Linked DNA regions of Homo sapiens. The protein of the gene in region 7 purifies or fractionates together with the protein of the main gene of each other region. This does not show direct contact. Each region holds a gene or a part of one and is shown on either strand. Other genes may lie near its edges.

What was found.
Region 1: the proteins of ZNF467 (region 7) and BUD13 purify together in Homo sapiens (affinity purification with mass spectrometry; one large-scale study listed by BioGRID and IntAct). This does not show direct contact.
Region 2: the proteins of ZNF467 (region 7) and BMS1 purify together in Homo sapiens (affinity purification with mass spectrometry; one large-scale study listed by BioGRID and IntAct). This does not show direct contact.
Region 3: the proteins of ZNF467 (region 7) and RPF1 purify together in Homo sapiens (affinity purification with mass spectrometry; one large-scale study listed by BioGRID and IntAct). This does not show direct contact.
Region 4: the proteins of ZNF467 (region 7) and NOC2L purify together in Homo sapiens (affinity purification with mass spectrometry; one large-scale study listed by BioGRID and IntAct). This does not show direct contact.
Region 5: the proteins of ZNF467 (region 7) and TAF1A purify together in Homo sapiens (affinity purification with mass spectrometry; one large-scale study listed by BioGRID and IntAct). This does not show direct contact.
Region 6: the proteins of ZNF467 (region 7) and DDX31 purify together in Homo sapiens (affinity purification with mass spectrometry; one large-scale study listed by BioGRID and IntAct). This does not show direct contact.

Annotation. Positions count from the first base shown.
Region 1 is NC_000011.10:116,752,488-116,755,987, forward strand, and holds part of BUD13 (BUD13 homolog), read right to left. Parts: intron 1-3,500. UniProt on the Homo sapiens protein: Involved in pre-mRNA splicing as component of the activated spliceosome. As a component of the minor spliceosome, involved in the splicing of U12-type introns in pre-mRNAs.
Region 2 is NC_000010.11:42,813,795-42,817,294, reverse strand, and holds part of BMS1 (ribosome biogenesis protein BMS1 homolog), read right to left. Parts: intron 697-3,500; coding exon 623-696; intron 1-622. UniProt on the Homo sapiens protein: GTPase required for the synthesis of 40S ribosomal subunits and for processing of pre-ribosomal RNA (pre-rRNA) at sites A0, A1, and A2.
Region 3 is NC_000001.11:84,485,766-84,489,265, reverse strand, and holds part of RPF1 (ribosome production factor 1), read right to left. Parts: intron 1-3,500.
Region 4 is NC_000001.11:952,757-956,256, forward strand, and holds part of NOC2L (nucleolar complex protein 2 homolog), read right to left. Parts: intron 3,460-3,500; coding exon 3,339-3,459; intron 3,258-3,338; coding exon 3,167-3,257; intron 1,327-3,166; coding exon 1,248-1,326; intron 1,137-1,247; coding exon 1,026-1,136; intron 533-1,025; coding exon 419-532; intron 1-418.
Region 5 is NC_000001.11:222,569,434-222,572,933, reverse strand, and holds part of TAF1A (TATA box-binding protein-associated factor RNA polymerase I subunit A), read left to right. Parts: intron 1-2,268; coding exon 2,269-2,399; intron 2,400-3,265; coding exon 3,266-3,424; intron 3,425-3,500. UniProt on the Homo sapiens protein: Component of the transcription factor SL1/TIF-IB complex, which is involved in the assembly of the PIC (pre-initiation complex) during RNA polymerase I-dependent transcription.
Region 6 is NC_000009.12:132,594,741-132,596,983, reverse strand, and holds part of DDX31 (ATP-dependent DNA helicase DDX31), read left to right. Parts: intron 1-561; coding exon of another isoform or gene 562-616; exon of another isoform or gene 617-1,841; intron 1,842-1,871; coding exon 1,872-2,118; 3' UTR 2,119-2,243. UniProt on the Homo sapiens protein: May have DNA helicase activity and RNA helicase activity. Probably have ssDNA and RNA dependent ATPase activity. Plays a role in ribosome biogenesis and TP53/p53 regulation through its interaction with NPM1.
Region 7 is NC_000007.14:149,767,136-149,770,588, forward strand, and holds part of ZNF467 (zinc finger protein 467), read right to left. Parts: intron 3,422-3,453; coding exon 3,305-3,421; intron 2,066-3,304; coding exon 1,955-2,065; intron 1-1,954. UniProt on the Homo sapiens protein: Transcription factor that promotes adipocyte differentiation and suppresses osteoblast differentiation in the bone marrow. Enhances the osteoclast-supporting ability of stromal cells.

The DNA.
Region 1 (3,500 bases), on a different chromosome or scaffold from region 7:
AAATACTAGTAAAAAAAAACTAGGTCAGGGAGAATTCTAAGTTTTGGGTCCAAAAATTAAAAAACAAAAAACAAAAACTCGGTAGCAGGGAACATCTGTAGGGTTGTGCTATAAAAAGATCTACTTCTGGCTGTATGTATGGCAAATGAGTGTTCTGAAAAATCCTCCTTCTACCAAAAAGCCTACATACAGTGAACTGCAAACGGAACTAGTAAGCTAGCCTGTAACCACAGCTACCCTAAAGATATCTGCCAAGATGAGGAACTACAGTCAACTTATAGATATCTGCCAATATCAGAAAGAAGAGCCTTAAATTTTTTTATTCTGGAGTTGGGGTCTCACTATGTTGCCTAGCCTGGACTTAAACTCCTGGGTTCAAGCGATCTTCCTGCCTCAGCCTCCCAAATAGCTGGTACTACAGACACACGCCACCACACCTGGCTGTTGGATTTTGACGGCACCCCGAGGGACAGAAGACAACGCCTTAGGCCCATATAAGGTGGGGAGACAGATTCTAGACATTGCAGAGTAACCCGAACAGACTAACCTATCCTCAGTTAGCAACTATAAAACCTAGACAAAACAAAAAAAATAGGTATTTGAAGGTGTGGAAGAGTGACCAAAAGTAAGTATGAACTGGATGAAGTCTATATGTGAAAAGAGATTTGCTGGAGGGCAACTTCCCAAACAGCATGGCTCATGAAGGCAGAAAGCCACAGGCTTACTGGCTTGAGGAATTAGTGCAAAGTGGGCAGAACAGCTAGGAAATTAGGGGGGAAATCTTGGAAGAGAAGGAACTACAAAAGAGATGAACCTCAAAATCTACATACAAACCCTAGTCAAATCCTTGGCTAACTGTTAAATGACACATGTGCAGAGAAAATACCATCAGGCCAATTAAAAAAATGGCAGCTAGAAACTAAAAGAACTGAGCAAAGATTGTAGCTGCCGTCCACTGCAAAGGAGACAGTTTGGAGTTCAGCTATGTTAACTACCTGCTAGAATAAAAACTAACACACTTAAGAGGAATACAGTGTAACAGAACTCAAAGTCTCTACAGTGTATCATTCATGATGCGTAGTAACAATTTTAAAAAGTGACCAGACAGGTAAATAAACAGGAAAATGTAATACACACTGAAGAAAAAGCTGTCAATAGAAACCAATCCTGTGGTGAATCCAATGTTGCAATTAGCAGACAGGACTTCAAAGCACTAATTACATATCATAAATATTTTCAAGAAGAGGAAAATGTCTCATAATGAACAGATGGGAAATCTCAGCAGAGAAATGTAAGCTATTAAATGGAAATTTTAGAGTTGAAAAACAAAATAAACCAGCTAAAACAAAAAATCCACAATTGATAGTAACTGATAGAAAAATACAAACACAAAAAACCCAGAATACAGGCGATCTAAGATCTAAACACCTTGACCTCACTGACTTTTATAAAACACTACCTTATATAGCTACAGAATATACGTTCTCTTCAAGTGCAAAGGAAACATTCAGAAGATAGACTATCCACTGGGCCATAAAACACACCTTAACAAATTTCATTTTTATTATTGTTTTTTGATACATGGTCTCACTCTGTCATCCAGGCTGGAGTGCAGTGGTGCAATCACAGCACATTGCAGCCTCGACCTCCCTGGGCTCAGTGATCCTCCCACCTCAGCCTCCACAGTAGCTGGGACTATAGGCGTGTGCCACCATGCCCGACTAATTTTTGTATTTTTTTGTAGAGACAGGGTTTTGCCATGTTGCCCAGGCTGGTCTCAAACTCCTAGGCTCAAGCAATCCGTCTGCCTTGGGCTCCCAAAATGTTGGGATTACAGGCATGAGCCACTGTGCCTGGCCAACAAATTTCAAAAGATCAAAATATTACAGTATATTATCTGACCAAAATGGAATTAAATTATAAGTAAATAGCAGTAAGATATCTAGAAAAGTCCAAATATTTGGAATTAATGCACTCCTAAATAACCCATGGAGCAAAGAATAAACCAAAAGGATAATTAGAAAATATTTTGAACAAAATCCAACATACATTCCTGAAAACAAAACTCTCAGCAAAACAGGAATAGAAGGGAACTTTAACTCCATAAAGGATATCTACAAAAAACCTATACAGCTACAACACATTTAATAAATGTGTTGTAAAAACTAAATGTTTTCTTCCTGAGATTAGGAACAAAGCAAAGATGTCTGCTCTCACTACTTCTATTCAACATCTGCACTGAAGTGCTAGCTAATGCAACAGGGCAAGGAAAAGAAACAAAAAGCATCTAGATTGTAAAGTAAGAAATTAAACTGTATGCAAAGATGGAAGACCCTCTAGGTACAAAATCTGATGGAATCTATAAAAAGCTATTGTACAAAGTGAGCTTTACCTGAAGGAAAACAACTGACAATACAGTGTAACAGAACTCAAAGTCTCTACAGTATATCATTCATGATGTCCAGTAACAATTTAAAAAAGTGACCAGACAGGTAAATAAACAGGAAAATGTAATACACACTGAAGAAAAAGCTGCCAATATAGAAACCAATCCTGTGGTGAATCCAATGTTGCAATTAACAGACAGGAAGGACTTCAAAGCACCAATTACATATCACAAATATTTTCAAGAAGAGGAAAATATCTCATAATGAACAGATGGGAAATCTCAGCAGAGAAATTAAGCTATTAAATGGAAATAGCTCAAGCAATGGAAATGCCAGTGATAACATTTAAACTTTCAAGTGTAAATTAGAATTCTGAAAAACTGTGAACTCTTTAACTTCCCATTATTTAAAGAGTTTTGTGATAAGACCGGAAGTGATGTTAACAAAAGTGATTTTCTGATATTGTATAGTGGAAATATGTCAACATTTGGAAGGTCTGAACAACTCAGCAAACCAATATTTTACAAATGACCAATGCATGATGTTATAAAATCATGCATGGGTAAAAGATCCACTCAAAGTATTAAAAAAATTAATATAACAGTAAGGAAAGTTCTTTGATCTGGTTTCAGGTTCCACATAGCTCACCTTTAAGAAACCAGCACTTGTTGAGTTTTTGTGTAACATTAAGAAATATAATATGCCTTCTCTTTCTAACTACCTATGTGTGAGGCTAAATTTTCTTTCTATACTTCAACTGAACAAATCACAACAGACAAATACAGAGTCAAGTTACCTATTATTAAGTCAGACATTAATGAGATTTGCAAAAATGTAAATCAATGCCATCCTTCTGTTTTTTCACTTGGAAAATGTAATTATTTTTCATTTAAATATACAGTAATTATGTTAACATAATTAGTTTATTTTTTTTTGAATGAATAAATACTTTTTAAATGTCTGAGTTTTAATTTATAATATGGTAAATATCAATATATATAATCCACATCAACAAAAGCTTTTTGAGGTCATCAGTAATTTTTAAGAGCGTAGGCCAGGCACGGTGGCTCAAGCGTGTAATCCCAGCACTTTGGGAAATCGAGGCAGACAATC
Region 2 (3,500 bases), on a different chromosome or scaffold from region 7:
TTTGTGTATGTTTATGAAGGTCTTTTCTTTAAACATTAGCTTTTTTAAAGTTCTATTTAAACAAGAATCTTAGCAAAAATCTGTTATCATTATCAATAAAACAAAAGAAAACACAACACAACCTTTGTCTCTGAATAACATGGTACTGCTACAGGAAATGGTTACATCTGCATTACAATTAGCTGCTAATCCTTAAGCTGGCTGGGAACACAAACTAGAATAAAAATAACAGACGTGTCCCTCACCCAGATGCTCCCAGACCCTGTTCTAAAGAAATACTAGGGAGAACAGGGACTTCATTCTTTTAAATGACACTTAAATTTAAAAAAAGGAGAATGATGCCAATGGTTGAATGTAAGTCCAAGAAGCTAAGACTTCCGTGAGTGAAAAATCACAGTGGACTTGGCAAATGACTATGGCAAGAAACGGTAGTAACTGTCATCCAAAACTTAACAAGTAAACAAGAAAGCTTCTCTTTGGTCCCCACATCCCCACCCTTTAGGAAGGAATCTATCTATCCAGTCTGCAATCTTCACACATCACAAGTAAGATTTGCATTTCTCAATGTGGGCCTCTCTCAGAACACAATGACCAAGAACAGCCAGCTACGACAAAGTCATACCTGAGTATTGGGGCCTGATTTTCCCTTGTGCACGTCCCCTGTTTCCAAGTCTTCAAAGTCACCGTAGAGCTCCTCTGGGAAAAGAACACCCAAAGGCTGCTCTGTGAGCCAGGTATGCATGTGCTGCTGGCCCCACCTACCACAGGCCCACAGTGTGCTCTGCGTTCCAAGCCTCATTCTCACTGTTCCTGTCACTACACACACAGGCAAAACTTTGCACTAGGGAATGCTTTGTAAAACAGTTAGTATTTCATCATCTGTTTAGGTAAACTAAATGGACCCAATCCACATTTCCGCACTTCACATCAAAATCCCAATCTCAATTTTTCCAGTATACACAATGGACACTCTTTTGTTTTTGTTTTTTATTTTTGGAGACAGAGTCTCACTCTGTCACCCAAGCTGGAGTGCAGTGGCATGATCTCAGCTCACTGCAACCTCCGCCTCCCGGGTTCAAGCAATTCTACTGCCTCAGTCTCCCGAGTAGCTGGGATTATAGGCACCCGCCACCAAGCCTGGCTAATTTTTGTATTTTTAGTAAAGATGGGATTTCACCAATTGGCCAGGCTGGTCTCGAACTCCTGACCTCGTGATCTGCCCTCCTCAGCCTCCCAAAGTGCTGGGATTACAGCCATGAGCCACTGCACCTGGCCAATGGACACTCTTTATGAAAGACACAGAGGTCTATGTGTGTCCCCCAAACGAATAGTTCAAGGAATGAATAGAAAAGCTCCACGCTGATACCAGCACATGTGAAAAGGAGTCTCAATGTAAGTTCAACACAACACAATCGTGTAACACACCTAGGGGAAATTTTAGGTTATATAAAACATAGCATTTAGATTAAGAGTAGAGCCCCAAACCACACCAAACCCATGGGAAGAGCTTATTCACTCATTCATTCCTTCATTTGTTTTTGGAGCTCTGGGCTCAATTATAGTTCCCACTCTTAAAAGAAACAGACAAGTAAGGCTGGGTGCAGTGGCTCACGCCTGTAAACCCAGCACTTTGGGGGCCCGGGAGGCAGACGTTGCAGTGAGCCATAATTGCATCACTGAACTCCAGCCTGGGTGACAGAGTGAGACCCTGTCTCAAAAAAAGGAAAATAAAAGAAATAGGCAAGTTAAAACTCATTTGGGAGAGCAATGTTTAGAAGGCTATTAAAACATTTTCACATAAGGGCCAAAGAACCAGGTAGAAGTTATAATAGATAGGAAGCTCCTATTTGTAATAAAAGCAAAAAAGGATAAAATAGGAATAAACCTAACAAGAAATGCACCAGAACTTTATTTTTTTAAAAAAGAAGAAAAGCTTTAATATGCTACCAAAGGACAAAAGGAATAGCATCACCACCAACACTCATCGGTGCTCTCCACACCAGGCACTGTGTTAAGTACTTTCCTTGCCTTAACCACATTCTTCAACCCAAGGAAGTAGGTGTTGTAAATATTATCTACTGAATAATGATATGTCCTCATTTGAAAAGAAAGACTCAACATCAAAAATACGCCAATTCTCCCTTTAGCACAGTTACAACCTGAAACCACCATTAAGGATTTCTGGTCTAGAGAAGATAACACATTATACCCTCCTAAGAAATAATAGACAGGAGATGATCAAAGGAGAATTCTGAAAGGTGGAAAGAAAAAGGCTGCTGAGGGACTCTAGGACTAGGGAATGCATAGTGGCCAGGTGTCTCCCTGGACCTCATCCAATAGGAAGTTGACCAGGCCCAGAGTTTCCCAACTCCCAACGTAGCAATAGAAGGCAACCCAGGCAGACTCAGTCCCCCCAGATCAAAGGAAATCTTCCCCATAACAAGAAAACCAGCTCCACACACCAAGACAACCACCACTCCCCACCCACCTAGCTGCAGCAGGTGGCCCAGCCTGGGGCAGCTCCCCTGTTCCCTCAGGTGGGCAACAGCAGGGACTGGTGGGAGAATCCCAGTGATACATATAAGCCAAACAGACCAAAATAACACCATGAAGGCTCTGAAATTAAATTGCCATTGGAATCACAGCCCACAAAGTAGACCAGGACCTACAGACTAAACCCAAATAGGAGGACTGCCTGCAAAAATAAAAAAATTACATAGGCAGATGTTGGAACCATCTGACTCATCACTTATAACAGTCAGCATAAATATGCTTCAACAAGCAACTACAAATCCTATGGCAACAAACAAAGAACTGAAAACGTCAGCAAAGAAACTGAAGAAGAATCAAATGGAAATTACAGAAATATAAAATACAGTAACAGAAATTAAAAAAAAATCTATCTAGATGGGCTCTATTGAGTAAAAGTGGAGACGACAGAGGAGAGAATCAGAGAAGCTGAAACCTGTATCAACAGAATTCACCCAGTCTAAACAATAGAGAGAAAATAACCTGAAAACAAATGAACAGAGCTGCACGGACCTGTGGGACAATAACAAAAGACCCCGCATTTATGTTATCTGAGTCCCACAGGAGACCAGAGCTGCAAAAGCATGCAAATAACTAATTCCTGACGCTTCCCACATTTAGTGAAAGATATAAACTTACAGATTCAAGAAGCTGAGCAAACCTCAAAGTATAACAAAAGAAAGCAACACTGATTAAACTTTCAAAACTAAAAACAAAGACCAAAAATGGCAGAATGCCTGTAGGGACATGCCAACTCAAATGCCATGGAGGCCAGAAGGAAGTGGCACAACATTTTCAAGTGCTTAAAAAAAACCAACCAAAGAAACAAACAAAAAAACCAAACCAACAAACAAAAAAACTGTTGGTTGCAAATTCTATATCCCATGAAACTACCCTTCAGAAATGAAGAGAGAAATAAAGACATTATCAGAGGAAGAGAATATAGGAATTTGTCTCTGGTAAATTTAGAA
Region 3 (3,500 bases), on a different chromosome or scaffold from region 7:
AAGACAAATCTTCCATTGAGAGACACTCAGATTTAAACATTAATGAAAGTAGTACCTTTTAAAATTTGTGGAATATACCAAAAGTGGTAGTCTGAAAGAGTTTTATGGCTATACCTGCTCATATTAGAAAAAATATATATTGAGCAAATCAATAAATACAGAATAAACTCAAAGGAAGCAGAAGAAAATAATAAAGATAAAAGGAGATATAAATGAATTAGAAAACAAAGATTCAACAGGATCAAAGAAGAAAGTACTCAGAAAAGACTAAGAGAATAGATATCTTGGTAAAAACTGATTTAAAAAAGAGAAAAAGCCAAAATAAAATAATATTAGGAACGAAAAGTGGACATTACTGTAGTCTCACTCATGAACACAGATATAATTAATTCTAAGCAAAGAATTAATAAATCCAATTTGGTTATGATGTTTAATGCAGTAAGAGAAAAGCCACATAATCACCTCAATATTTGCAAAGAAAACATCTAATAACATTCTACATTCATTCATGACAAACAAAACAAAACAAAATCATAAGAATAAGTAAAATTTACTTAACCCTTAACTCATAATAATCTATCTCTAGTGACACAAATATTAATGTTGACTCATTGGAAGTATTCTTTTGAAAATCAGGAACGTGGCAAAGATGGCACTGTTGATTTTTCTATTTATTTGACATTAGGCTAGAAGTTCTAGAAGGCACAAAAATGGGAGAAAAATGGGTCAAAATAAGAAAACTGTCATTTGCAGAAATGGTTATCTAAACAGAAAAATGAAAACGATATCCCAACAAATTAGAAATGAATTTAGGTAGGCTACTGGTTAGAACATCACTATTCAAAAATCCATTGCATTTTTATAAATTGGCTAACAAAACAATTTTCAAAGACATGCAGTTTACACCAACAAAAACTGTAAGATATCCAGGAATAGCTCTAGCAAGATTTATGTGTCAACTTCCATGAAGAGAATTACGAAATACATGAAATACATTTCACTATTTAAAGGAGACCTAAGTAAATATATATTATATACATACATACGTATCCCCAAATTGATCTGATTTAGTGCCATTTATAATTTATATGGAGGAGCAAAGGCCTAGGAAAAGCCAAAACACATCTGAAGAGAGGGGATTTAGGGGCAGGAGTGAAAGAAGCATTTTGCCCTTATAGATATGAAGCCTTATTATGAAGCTAAATAATTAACTAATGATGCAGTGACAAACTGACGAAGCAAATAGCCCAGAAAAAGACCAAGCATATATAGATATTTGATATATATCATGGCATTACAATTCATTGTGGGGAAAGGCTGCACTACTCCAAAAATATAACTACTGGTTATATATAACCAGTACTGGATAAACTGGTTATATATAAATGAACTGTTAAGAAGTAGAACACAGAATTGTAAGAGTACATTAAAACTAATTCAAAATATATATATGCAAAAGGACAGGTTGGGGAGACAGGAAGGAAAGTAACTGGTTTCCATTCTCACACCAAACAGAAAACAATTCCTGACAATCAAGCAAATAAATACGAGAGGCAACTCTTTAATTATTTTAGAAGGAAAGAAGAACTTATGATCACAGGAAAGAGAAAAGTTTCTTAAATATTACATAAAAAGCTTTAAGTGCTAATTTTTCAAAAACTCAACTACATCAAGAACTTCTGGTCCTGGTCCTCAAAAGACACCATAGAAAATAAAAAGAGAATTCATGAATTGGAAGATTTCTTTAATATGTATGAAGAATTGGTATCCAAATTATATAGAGAAGTTCCACAAATGCGTAAAATATACTACATGATAGAAAACTGGGCAAAAGACATGAACTGGCTTATCTCTAAAGAAAACAACTTATATTAAATGATGCTCAACATTAGAAAACAAGGAAATACAAATTCAAACCACAATGAGACAGCCTTTTATCATTAGTCTGAACATACCATGAGTTGGTTAGAATGTGGATGAGCAGGAACACTACTCTTGTACCACAAAAGTATAAAATGATACAACCACTACTTTGAAAAATATTTTGGTACAATTATGTAAAGTTAAACATTTACACATTCCATGACTCAAAATTATCCTACTGTAGGTAAACATTCTAGGGAAACCTTTATGTACACACACCCTTGATATGCCTGTTACCCCCAAATTTATCTCAAGACCTCTTTCCTGAATTCCAAGCTCACATCCCAACTACCTGCTTGACATCTCTTCTAAAAACTCTTGAGTCATCTCAAACATAATATATGCAAAACTGAACTCTTGATTTCCCCTTAAATCTCCTTCACTCAGTCTTCCACATCTAGTCAATGACCATTTCATCCTTCTAATTTGCTCAGTCTAAAACCTTAATACCATCTCTGAATCCTCTATTTATCTCATATTCTGCATCCAATTTGTCAGGAAATTGAAGCAGCTCTGATTTCAAAATATACCCAGGGGAAAAAATATTTAGAATCAGATCAATTCTCACCACTTTCATTGTAACTACCCTGGCCCAGGTCATGATGAAAGCCCATCATTTCTTTCCTGGATTTGTTTAGTAGCTTCCTTTCTCTACTTACCTCTCCAGCTACATTCTCAGTAAAGCAGCCAACTACTTCTAAAAATTAAGTCTGATCACATCATTTTCCTATTCTTTTTTTTTTTTTTTTTTTTTTGAGACGGAGTCTCGCTCTGTCGCCCATGCTGGAGTGCAGTGGCGCGATCTCGGCTCACTGCAAGCTCCGCCTCCCGGGTTCACGCCATTCTCCTGCTTCAGCCTCCCGAGTAGCTGGGACTACAGGTGCCCGCCACCACACCTGGCTAATTTTTTTGTATTTTTAGTAGAGATGGGGTTTCACCACGTTAGCCAGGATGGTCTCAATCTCCTAACTTCGTGATCCACCCGTCTCGGCCTCCCAAAGTGCTGGGATTACAGGCGTGAGCTACTGTGCCCGGCCACGTCATTCTTCTATTCTAACCCACCCAGTGGCTCTTCATTTCACTAAGTATAAAACCAAAGTCCTCATACCGGCCAACAAAGTCACTGATCTGGTCTTTCTTCTTCATCATACTTTCCTAGGACCTCTTCTACAATTCTCTCCCTTGCTTGATTTCAGTCACAATGGCCTCCTTGTTATTCTTAAAAAGCATATTCGATACACTCCTGCCTTGGAGCTTGTGCACTGGGTGTTCTCTCATTCTGGGGCTCTTTTTGCCCAAAGATGGCTAATTTCCTCACATCCTTCAAGTCTTTGCTAAAAGGTCAATTTCTCAATAAAGCCTACCCTGACTTTCCTATATAAAATCACTACCCAGTAGACAAATGGGCAAGAGACACAATCAATCAATCAAGGGGAAAAAAATATGAAAAGATGTTCAACCTCATTCAAAATGAGAACTGCAAATTAAAACTACAGTGATATACAATTTCTCACTTATCAAACTGGAAAAAATGATTTACAATGAGTGTTAAGTTGAGGAGTAACATTCAAGTTATC
Region 4 (3,500 bases), on a different chromosome or scaffold from region 7:
CAGCCTCAGGCCTGGGAGAAGCTGGGGCAGAAGCTCCTGCTGCACACTGGGCCCCTCTGGGGGCTGAGGGTCCCCACATGCAGGCCACCCATGGCTTGGGGACGGGCAGTAGGACTGTACCCTGGCCATGGCCTCAGGTCCCAACACCCAGTGTCCTCCTCCAGCCAGAGAGGCCCTCCCCTGGGGAAGCTGTGTGAAGCAGGGTCCAGGTGGGGCCCTGAGAAGGCCGAGGGCTCTCTTCCCTGCCCACCACCCCCAGGTGCTCTGTGAGACATTCGTGATCCAAGGGCCCAGGTCTGCTCAGAGCTGCAGTGAGGGTCCAGTGAGGGGCACCAACCACAAAGGCAGCCCGCCCTGCCCTTAGGCCGAGATTTCCAATGCAGATGCTGAGGGACACAGACGCAGGGCCCACCACTACCTTGAGGACGGGGCCAAGGAAAGTGTCCTTCTTGTGCCGGCAGACTCTGCTGAGGACCAGGAAAGCCAGCACCCGCAGAGACTCTTCCCCAGTGCTCCATACGATCACCATTCTCTGCAGAAGGTCAGACGTCACTGGTGGCCCCCCAGCCTCCTCAGCAGGGATGCCCCAGGGCCAGCACAGCCCTCCCCAGCCAGGCAAAGGCTCCCATGGCCACCAGCTCTTCCCAAAGCACCTCGGGGGAGCCGTGAGTTAGGTGCTCAGTTACAGAAGTGAACAGAACAGGTGTGTTGCTCCTTGTGAGAAGAGGACCACAAAAGTTTACCACGTCAGACACGCCGACGTATGTGAGATCACACCGGGAAGAAGATACCTCACCGTGGCTTTGCTCACGGACTGAGCCGCGCTGCCCGGGCAGGCAGGGACTGCCTGAGACAGAAACCCCAGGTGGGGGTGGGGGCCAGGTGCTTCTGTGGCCTCTCTAGCCAAGCGGAGCCAGTGGAGTGTGGGCACCACCTGTGCCCTGGCCAGGAGTGGGATGTGGTGGGGGTAGCCGTGTGGCCCCCCGACCCCATGACAGACACAGGGAGGGGACTGGGCCACGAACCTTGAGCAGCATGCGGCACTGCTTGGGGAAGGTCAGGAAGCAGGGCACCAGCACGCTGATGTGCCGCAGCACGGCCGCCAACACCGTCGTCTCCGACAGACAGGACACCAGCTGGGGGCAGGAGGGGACAGTGAAGCCCCAAACCCATGTATTCTGGGATACAAAAAAGGACCGACCACCAGATACAGCCAGGCCCCCGTGCCCTCCCCACCAGAATAGCACCTGTATGGCCGAGCCCAGGTAAGCCTTGATGTCCACACGAAGCTTCCCCCAGAGCGGGCTGCTGGACGGCTGCAGCATCCTGCAGAGAGACCACCCACCCCTGGCTGGGAGGCCCCACGGCTCGGACGCGAGGCTGCTCAGCATGTTGGCGCGTGCCCTGGCCAGCATAGCCTCTACGACTCTGCAGAGACCCCCCGTCTCTCCACTCAAAAAAGCTCAGGGCCCCTTACAGCTGGACAGACACAGGGGCTTAGGAGGACCCTCTCAAGTGCATTAGCTCCTCCTTCAGTGGCCTTGAACTCCTGTCTGCCCTGCCCAGGGTTGGCCACCGCCCTAAGAGTCCCCGGAAGTCCCAGCCTCCAACTCCCTCTCAGACATAAACCTTTTCTAGGTCCCCTTGATCACATCCCCACCGTGAGACCACACGAGGTCCCTAAGCCCAGCAGCTGGTACTCAGCACCTCTGGGGTCGCCCAGGCACCACCAACTGCCGCAGACTGGTTTCCTTTGGCCCACATTTGCTGCACAAAGAAAAGAAAATCAGAGGGCAGGTGTGGAGACTCATGCCAGTACTCACTGCACTTTGGGAGGCCAAGGCAGGAGGATCAAACTCCAAGCCCAGGAGTTTGAGACCAGCCTGAACAACACAGTGAGACCCCGTCTCTACAAAAATATACAAAATATTATCCAGGCCTGGTGGCGGAGTCCCAGTTACTTGGGAGGCTAAGGTGAGAGAATCACTTGAATCCAGAAGGTACGTGTCGCAGTGAGCTATGATCACTGCATTCCAGCCTGGGCGACAGAGCAAGATCCTATCTCGTAAGGAAAAAAAAAAACCAAAAACCAAACAAACAAAACAAAACAAAACAAAACATTTACCAGAGCCCACGCAGTAGGCGCTCACTAAAATCTGCTGAAGCATGGGAAGGACAAAGGGCAGGGCCCCAGAAAGGCCCCCCGTCCTCGACCCTCCTCACACCTGTGCTGACACTGGCTGCTGGGCACCTGCAGCTGCCCACCCAGACCCAGGAGGCAGCTCTGCTCCCCACGGCCTGACTCCCTCCGGTACAGCTGCTGCCTCGACAGGGGTCCCTGACCTGGTGGCTCAGGCTGCAGTGCGTGCTGCCTCCCAATCGCTGCCTGTCCCTCCACCCCCATCTGCCAGCTTCCTTGTCCCCTTCGGACAGCACTGCCTCCATGTGGACATGGCTCTGTTCTATCCGTCCAGCCCCGACCACTACCACCAGCAACAGTGCCCCTGTCTCCTGAGCCGCTGTCGGCGAGACCTCTCCTGTGGGTCTCCTTTCTTCCTTTGAAGGTGTCCTGGGGCAGTTCCAACTCTAGGCCTCCACTGCCTCAAGGTCACATGGCTGCACAGCCCCGGAACCCCAACGTGCTCCATGCTCTACCAAATGCTTGGCCGTGCGTCTCTCTTCTCTGAAAACCTTCCACGGCCTTCTCTGCCCAATCTTTCTCTAAAGGGGAAGTTGAGGCCCTCAGGTTCTCAGCATTGATGAGGCCCCTGTCTACAGACACACACAGCTCCAGGAAACAGGCCAGTCATAGTGCAGAGATCAAGGAGTATGGACAGGACTTACAAGTTCTTACAAAGGGAAATAGAGCAAGAACCCTAACCTGGGAAAATCTGAGAGCAAAGGCAGCTGCACACGCCACACCTTCTGAGACTCTGAGCAGACAACTTCCCTTTTCAGGAAGGAAAGAAGGTGGGGCCGCTCCAACTGGCCCCAAGTGCCCAGCCTCTCCCAACGGTCCCTCGTGCCCCGCTGCCTTCTCAGGGTCCCCAAGAAGACGCTGGCTCTGTTGCCATGTCTCTGTCCTAGCCACAAGGCCTCTGGCTTCTCCTGTGTGTGGTCCCGACCCACCTTCCACCCTACCCCCCTTCACCCCCTCCCCTCTTACCTGCTGCTATCCTTTGCCACCTTTCCAAACAGCAGCTTCTGGAGACAGCCAATGAGGTCTCTGATGCAGAAGGTAACCAGAGCATTGAATGCTGCAACGAAAAGGCCTGGATGTACTCACGGGACAGAGAACGCAACAGACAGCCTGGATGCCAGGCTCCCCCCAAGCTCACCAGCACTGTCCGTGACCTGGAATTTGTTGGCCTCAGCACTTTCCTGGTCCCCTCGGGTGGTGGCCACAGCTGCTCGGAACGCCTGTACCACTTCATGGAACAGCTTTGGAGTGAGGCGTTGCTGAAGGAGCAAGAGTACCAGGGGCGTCAGGGGAGCTGAGA
Region 5 (3,500 bases), on a different chromosome or scaffold from region 7:
TGAGGTTTAATTTAACTGTTTCTTCTTTTGTTGCTTGTGGTTTTGGTATCACATCTAAGAAGCTGTTGCCTACTGCAAGGTCGCAAAGATTTTCACTTCTTCTGAGAGTTTTAAAGTTTTAGCTCTTATATTTTGGCCTTTGAGTTAATTTTTATGAAGTAGGTAGGGGCCCAACTTTATTATTTTGTATGTGGATATCCAGTTGTAGCATTTATTGAAAAGTCTATTATTTTCCCACTGAATTGTCTTGGCACCCTTACTGAAAATTAGTTAGCAGCCGGGAGCAGTGGCCATGCCTGTAATCCTAGCACTTTGGGAGGCCAAGACAGGTAGATCGCATGAGCCCTCAGGAGTTCGAAACCAACCTGGGCAACATGGTGAAACTGCATCTCTACAAAAAATACAAAAATTAGCTGAGTGTGGTAGCGTGTGCCTGTAGTCCTGGCTACTTGAGTGGCTGAGGTGAGAGGTTCACTTGAGCCCAGGAGGTAGAGTGAGGCTTCAGTAAGCTGAAATCATGCCACTGCAGTCCAGCCTGGGAGACAAAGTAAGGCCCTGTCTTACACACACACAAAAGAAAATTAGTTACCTATAAATGTAGAGGTTTACTTCTGGACTCTAAATCTTCCATTGATCTACATGTGTCTCTCTTTCTGCCCATATCACACAGTCTTGATTACTACAGCTTTGTAGTACTTTTTTTTTTTTTTTTTTTGAGACTGAGTCTTGCTGTGTTGCCCATGCTGGAGTATAGTGGCAGGATCTCAGCTCACTGCAATCTGTGTCTTCCAGGTTCAAGCGATTCCTGTGCCTCAGCCTCCTGAGTAGCTGGGACTACAGGCGTGTGCCACCACGCCCAGCTAATTTTTTCGTACTTTTAGTAGAGACGGGGTTTCACCTTGTTGGTCAGGCTGGTCTCGAACTCCTGACCTCAGGTGATCCACCCACATCGGCCTCCCAAAGTGCTGGGATTATAGGTGTGAGCCACCATGCCTGGCCATAGTCATAGAGTACATTATCCAACTTTGTCCTTTTTAAAGATTCTTTGTTCTTCTTTGGTCCCTTGCATTTTCGTATGAATTATAGAATCAGCCTGTCAACTTATGCAAAAAGGCCGAGTTTTTGATAGGAATTACATGTATCTGTAGATCAATTTGACAATAGTAAGTCTTTCAACTGAACACAGAGTGTCTTTTCATTCATTTAGGTCTTAAAAAATTTTTTTTCAACAGTATCACTTTTCAGAGTAAAATTTTGCATCTCTTTTGTAAAATTTCTACCCATTTTGTTACTTTTGATGCTTTTGCAAATGGCATTGTTTTCCTAATTTTATCTTCTGCTTGTTCATTGCAAGTGTATAGACATACAGTTGATTATTGTGTATTGATCTTGTACTCTGCAACCTTTGTGAACTCATTTATTAGTTCAGTAAATTTTTAGTGGGTTCTTAGGATTTTTCTGTGTACAAGACCATGTCATCTGCAAATAGAGATAGTTTTACTTCTTCCTTTCCAATCTTGGATATCTTTTTGTTATGTTCTTGCTTAATTGTCCTGGCTGGAACCACCAATATAATGAACAAAAGTAGTGAGAAAAGACATTTTTGTCTTATTACTGATTTTAGGGGGAAAGCATGCAGTCTTTTATCATTCAGTTCAATGTTAGCTATGAGTTTTTCATAGATGCCCTTTATCAGATTGAGGAAGTTCCTTCTGTTCCTACATTGTTGAGTCTTTTTATCATGAAGGGTTATTGTGTTTTTTCAGATGCTTTTTCTGTGTCTATTGTGATGATCATGAGGTTTTGGTCCTGTATTCTTTTGATTTGGTTTAGATCAATAGATCTCTATTTTATTATTTGCATTAATTGATTTTCAGATGTTAAGCCAACCTTGCATTCCTAGTATAGATCCGACTTGGACATGATGTATAATGCTTTTTATATGTTGTTGGACTCAGTTTGCTAGTATTTTTGTTAAAGATTTTTGCAGCTATATTCTTAAGAGATACTGATCTGTAGTTTTATTGTGTTGTCTTTGGTTTTGGTATCATGGTAATACTGGCTTAGAATAAGTTAGGAAGTATTCTTTTCTGTCCTTTTTTTGGGAGAATTTGTGAAGAATTAGTATTTTCCTTTAAATATTTGTTGGAATTTACTGTTGTAGCTATCAGCAACTGAGTTTTTCTCGCAGATAGTTTTTTAAATTACTAATTTAACAGAGGTCCTCAATGTTTAATGAATGTTAAAAGATCTTGTATCTTTGGGCAGATAAGGATGATTATGCTTACAATGCAGTAGCCCAGGATGTGTTCAACCACAGCTGGAAGACATCTGCAAATATTTCTGCATTGATTAAAATTCCTGGAGTTTGGGACCCTTTTGTGAAGAGTTATGTAGAAGTAAGTAGAATTTTCATTAAATTTATTGGTTTTATTTTGTCAAAAGCCTATACAAAGACTGCATGCCTAATCTTTATTGATCAGAAAGAAACTAATGGAAAAAATTATTTAAAAGAAAGCAAAAATACGGTGTCTCTTTTTTGGTCTGAATTTGTTTATTTTCACCACTGTATAACCCGTCGTGGCCAAGTATCTATAAAATAAATAGCAGTATAGTTGTAAATGTTAATTCAATCTTATTCTTGTTGAGCTTAAAAGAAATGCAGTAAGATACCTTATGATTTGGTGGGATATAGAAGGAAAGAGGACAAAAATCTGAAAAAATGGGTCATACTATATGAGGTGAAGAATGATGGCTTTTTGGAAGTTCATAAGAATGTCCTGTCATCCCAGAGTCATTGTAAAAGGACTGAGGGCCTTGGTGCTAGGCACTAGGAATAAATCTTCAAAATAATTTGCTTTGTGAAAGTTAATGAGTGGCAAGTTGATAATTGTGTTGTCAGAAGATAATCTCCAAAATCATAATCTGGAGATTCCTGTGTAAGGATGGGAACAGGATGAAAGGAATTACAATTCTCATGCACTCCTTTTGTGGCTGCAGTGATGTAGGGCACTGAGGTTAGCTGCATCACATTTTCGAGCATTAGTGTTCCCTGCTTTGAGGACTCTTATTTTTTATAGGAAGAGAATTTATGTTGAGGTTGCTGCATTGTTTATTAGTAGTAACAAAATACAGGGAAAAAATGGGAACCCTGTCAGTTTTGTGATTTTTAAAAAATACCCATCAGTAAACTTATGCTGTGTATTATTTTTCGTATAGCTGTCTTACAGAATTCAGCTAAGATATTATGATTTATTTTATATAGATGCTGGAATTCTATGGGGATCGAGATGGAGCCCAAGAGGTACTCACCAATTATGCATATGATGAAAAGTTTCCATCAAATCCAAATGCCCATATCTACTTATACAACTTTCTAAAGAGACAGAAGGCACCAAGATCAAAATTGATAAGTGTGCTTAAGGTATAGAATTTTTATCTCGATGTTTGACCAGGGTTGGGAATCTACATTAAAACATTCTTAGGCCATTGCTTTCTAA
Region 6 (2,243 bases), on a different chromosome or scaffold from region 7:
ATTCTCAGTGAGGAAACTGAGGCACAGAGCCTGAGTCACTCATTCTGTGTCCTCAGCTGATGAGTGATAGTCAAGTTCCAACCCTGGCTTCTCCCTCCTCCACCCTGCAGCTCTGCTGTCTCCCCTCACCACTCCCTACTCACTTGCCTGGCTCCTGCCCCACTGTCCTGCTGAAGTAGTCCTTAGGAGACCACAGAGGACCCCTCCCATCACATCTCACCATTTTCCACCCTTGGTCCAGCTGAGTCCTGCCCCCGCTGACCCGGCAAATCGTTCTCTGCCCTGAGTTTGCCTCTTGGCTTCTCCACTTACCAGCCATGTGGTCCTGGGGCAGGTTACCCTCCTTGAGTCTTTGTGTCCTTGTCTGTAAATGAGGATAATAACCGTACCCACCTTGTTGAGCGAGGATTGTAAGAGATTGTGTATGTGAATCATTTCCCACAGACCCCAGGAAGTCTTCCCTGTATACTTCTAATCTTCTCACTACATCCTGCCCTGATGTGCTCACCCCATAAACTCCTGGCCTTTAAATGTTATCTGTTCATTGTCCCCTTGTTTCAGATCTTCTTTTCCTGCAGAGGTTGGCTTGAATGTGTCTTCCTGTATGTTGCAATAGAAAACACCATTGTATGACTGTCACCCTGTCCTCTGGAGTGTGATTAGAAACAGGTATTATTGCTTTAGCTCGTTTATAATGGGTTTCTACAAGCTTTCACAGTCAGGTTAACAACACACTATTAGTCTTATTTCTAATTCTTGGGTTTTAAAGGCATTGTTACATTTATTTTGACCACAGTTTCAGTTCAGTTTATTCTCTGATTACAGCAAAGAAAATGCTCTAAATGTAGTAGCAGAACGTAACATATGTCTTTGTGAGAACTCCATGACACTATAGTATCCTAAGACATTGCCGTTTTGGTATTGAAGGAGTTGCCAGCAAGGAAGTGTGGATTTATTGGTAATTGTTTTATTGTTGTTGCTTTGGTTAAAATCCTGTCTTAAGAAACATTGTTTTACTCTTCAGTTTTCATAATCATTCTTCTTATGTATGATTGAACATCTACAAATTTCCTCCTCTGATCTTCCGATCAAATGGTAAAATTGCCATCTTTTCAGAACAGTTATCAGGATTCGACATCGGAAATTGATTTTCAACCTTTGGCATTTTCTGAGTGACTTAGGGTAGGGAGAGACCTCCCTCTAACACCCGGGTTTGTGTGGGCTGCAGAAAGCTGCTGGTCTAATCCTAGATGCAGACATTGACCAGGCTGTGCCCTGGGTTTGGGTTTTGTAGGGTCAGAAATATGTTTAAGAGTTTTTTCCGTTCATAAAGAGCTATCTGGCTGTCATCCCAGCCTTCACTGTGGAACCCTGGAGGGCTGCGTGGAACTTGCTGGACTCTGCTCCCGCAGGGCTGAGTCCTGAAGCCCTCAGGAGCCCATGAGGAGGCCAGTTGCTTTAAGCTGCTTAGGGGTTACTGGGAAGCTGCCGTGAGCTTTCACTGCTTCATGTTGTTGAGTGTGACGGTGGGTTTTTCCCTGTCCTTTGGCAAACCGCTGTATCATACACCTCATTTGCCATCAGAGCATGAGGGTGTATAGTTCTTTTTTTCCCCATGAAAACAACACAGAACAAAGCCTCACTTTTAAAAATGCCATGATATTTTGCCGCTGTTATGAAAATCTGTCAGCGCCGTATCTAATCTTCTGGTGCATCGAATATCAAAACAAGTACTATTGAAGGGATTGTACTTCTGTTAATACAAAAATGTCAGCTTCACAGTCTCAGAACCAGCTGCTATCAGCCTCTTTCCAAATGGGAAAGAAAAATAATAAAGTTTCTTTTCCCTCTCTGCTGTTACTGTTCTTCAGGCCTGACCTTCATAAGAAGACCCAGAGTAAACACAGCCTCGCTGAAATCCTACGTTCGGAATACTCAAGCGGCATGGAGGCCGACATCGCCAAGGTCAAAAAGCAAAACGCACCTGGAGAGCCTGGTGGCCGGCCCCTGCAGCACAGTCTGCAGCCGACACCCTGCTTTGGCCGTGGGAAAACATTAAAATGGAGAAAAACCCAAAAAGGTGTACAGCGGGACAGCAAGACTTCCCAGAAAGTTTAAAATCTCTCTGGGTCTTCGAGTGGAACCTGGAAGCCCCGGGTGGCAGTGGATTGATGTCCAGTTCTTGTCAGAGGAGGCTTGTGAAAAATAACTGCGCCTTTGCCTGAATACCACGTCCCCAAGAA
Region 7 (3,453 bases):
GTGACTTTGGTTCAGTCACTTAACCTCTTTGAGTTACATTTCTTAGTCCGCTAAGAAAATTTGCCCTTTGTGTAAGAGTTGGACTAGTTTAAAGCTCCCACGCCTGTGCTGCATCATCAGCTCCTGGGAAACGTTGAGAAAATGCACAAATGGGGGCAAGGCCCACGAACGTGTTCTCATCTTTAAAGCTCCCAAAGTGATTCTCATTTGTGAATCATTTAAGCAGATAATTTGGGTTCCTGTCTGGCCTGAGCCTTGATTCCATCACACGTGGACTTCCACAATCAGAGGTACTCCCAGTTTCTTCTATCAGTCCATTGATTCCAGACCCCTGTCTACTTATCACACTGTGATACTGCTTTCACCTTCATTGTGGCACTCTTTACTTTTCTACTCAAGAACCATCAATAGCTCCTATTTATTTATTTTTAATTGAGTCAGGGTCTTGCTCTGTCTCCCAGGCTGGAGTGCAATGGGACGATAATGACTCATTGCAGCCTCAAACACCTGGGCCCAAGTGATCCTCTTACCTCAGCCTCCCAAGCAGCTGTGACTATGGGTGTGCACCAACATGCCCAGCTAATATTTCTTACTTTTTCAGAGATGGGGTCTCGCTGTGTTGCCCAGGCTGGTCTTGAAATCCTGGCCTCAAGCAGTTCTCCCACCCCAGCTTCCTGAGTCGCTGGGATTACAGGCATGAGCCACAGTGCCCAGCCCAGCACCCTATTATTTGAAGATAAAACAGGTTCTAGCTGCATCTGAGGCTCACCCCACCCTAGTCCAACTTTCTTTCTCCCAGGCATGGACCTTCCACTTCAGCCAAGCTGCTCTCCTCCCCTTTCCTGCTTCAAGATCTTCTCAGCCTAGAACGTCTTCCCATCCTCCACCCCACCCCTTTCAGAACTGAAGTCTACACCTTTCTTAAAATGCAGCACAAATTAATGTTTTTTGACAAATTCCCAGTGCATGCGGATCTTTTGGCATAAACTCCTATAGCACTTACTGTTAACACTTTTGTGCTTATTTGTGACTTGCCTTTATACTGTTCTTTTAATTCTTTGTTCTAGCTCATATTAAGGTCATCTCAACCAGATTTTCTCTTCTGAGGTATGGACATTTTGTGTTCCATTTCTTTTGTGTCTAATAAGAAAGGTGTCTTTATGTGTCTGATAAAAATGGGGACTGCTGCCACTTCTCGAGGACCAACTGTAGATGAAGTGTTGTACACACACTGTCACAAACCTTCACAAACCGAAGCTCCTGGAGGCAAGGTGGCCTATCCAAGGGCACTCAGCTAGTAAATGCAGAACAAAGATTCAAACCAGGTCCAGGTAACTCTACAGTTCATCTCTTTCCACTGTACTTAACACAGCCTGTATGTAGTCGGCACTCAATAAATCCTTGCTGAATAAATGATATCCCTCAGGCAAAAGGTAGTAAGGATGGTGGCAGTGGAAGGAAGTCATGGTGGGATTGTTGAGAGAGAGTGAGCAGTTTGATCACCCTGGGTATGAGGAGATGAGTTGAATACAGCAGATGTGGAGCATCTGGGTACCCTCACGATCAGTGGAAGCTGGGGAAGGCGGCATGTCAGGGGAGAGGCAGTGAAAATGTTGATCAAAGCCATGTATCTTCATGGCAACTGTAATTAGACTTAGACTGGGAGAAATAAAGAGGGGGAGGTAGGATTTCTAGAAGGCATTTGAGGGGAGGCTGTGTTTCTCTTTGGTGACCAGCCTCTCTGACTCCTGCCATCTACAGATGTGAAATTCCCTTTCGGCATTGAAGCTCCACAGCAGAAAGGTGCCAGGGCCTGAACTCAACTTGGGTTAGAAGGGCCTGGACTGCCTGTCTTGGGGGATTACCTGCCTCATGAGATAGCAGCTCCGGAGCTTGCTGGGCCCCGTTCCCTTGGCCTGAGCCCGTGGTGGGATGAAGTGATGGGAAGACTCACCTGGGCAGGTACCCACAGGCTGAGCCTTCTGTGCTGAGCACGCCTGGCCTCTGCAGGGAGCCTCGGCTTGTTCTGTGTGGGCACCTTCCTCCGGTGTAGGGGCCTCGTGCCCTGGCAGAGAATAGGATACCTCAAGGACTCTGGAGACATCACAGATGGCCAAAGGGCCCCACTGGTGCTGGGAAGCAGGAGCATTTGAAACCCTGGCTCCAGCAGGGCCCACAGGGTTCCTCCCACATCCTACCTGAATTAAGGGGCTGAGTTCCCAGCTTCCCTGGGGCTGCCTCAGACTCCTTCAAGCAGGGCGGCTGCTAAGGGTATGTAATGAGATGGACTACAAGGTTACAAGAGCCACCACTGTGAAGAGTTCCTGGAATATGTGTATGTAAGACAGTGGAAGCAAGGAAGTCCCCTGACCTGATGCCCCTAGGAGAAGGGCTGGGGACTTCCCAGCCCCCAGATGGACCCTGGTTCCAAGCAAATCACTGGGGAGAATCAGGATGTCAAAAGCCAGGCACATTCCTGCCTTAGTGCTCTGTCCTGGCTGTACTCCTGCCTGAAGCACTTTTCCCAAATCTGCTGAGCTGCCGCCTTCACCTCTTTTATTTTTCTTTTTTTAGAGAAAGGTCCTCTCTGTCACCCAGGCTGGAGTGCAGTGGCACGATCATACCTCACTGCAGCCTGGGCTTCAAGGGATCCTCCTGCCCCAGCCTCCCAAGTAGCTGGGAACACAGGCATGAGCCACCACATCCAGCTAACTTTTAATTTTTTGTGGAGACAGGGTCTTGCCATGTTGCCTAGGCTGGTCTCGAATGGGGCTCAAGCAATCCTTCCACCTTGGCCTCCCAAAGGGCTGAGAATACAGGCATAAGCCACCATGCCCGGCTTCCCCAAGCTCCTTCAAATCCTGCACAAATCTTACCTTCCCAAAGAAACCCAGTCTCCTCACCCTATTTAATCCTATAACATGCCCCACCCACCCCCACCTGCAGCTGTCTCGGCCCCCTTCAACCTGCTTCACTGGACATTATCCTCTCCCCCAGAGCTCTTATCACCTTTGAACATAGTTTAGAAATTTCCTTATTTATTGTTTGCTGACTCTCTGCACTCATTAGGATTAAGCTCTTGAAGGTAGGGATCTTTGACTATTTGGTCACTGAGGTATTCCAAATGTTTAGAATAGCATCCCACACATAATAGGTGCTCAATAAATATTTGATGAATGGAAGGAAGGAAGGAAAGAAGGAAGGGAGGGAGGGAGGGGGGAGGGAAGAAGGGAGAGAGGTAGGGAGGGCAGGAGGAAAGCAGGGGGACTCCTCCCTGAGCCTTTCCAGGGTTCCTGTTACCTACCTGAGCACACCCCCAGTGCTCTCTCTTCCCTAGAAGAGGACATCTGCTCCTGGGCATTATGGGATCCTTCCCTGGGCTCACTTTGGGGGGCCATCTCTGGCTGTCCCACAGAGAATCCTGTTACAGGCAGAAGGATGGGTCCAAGTAAA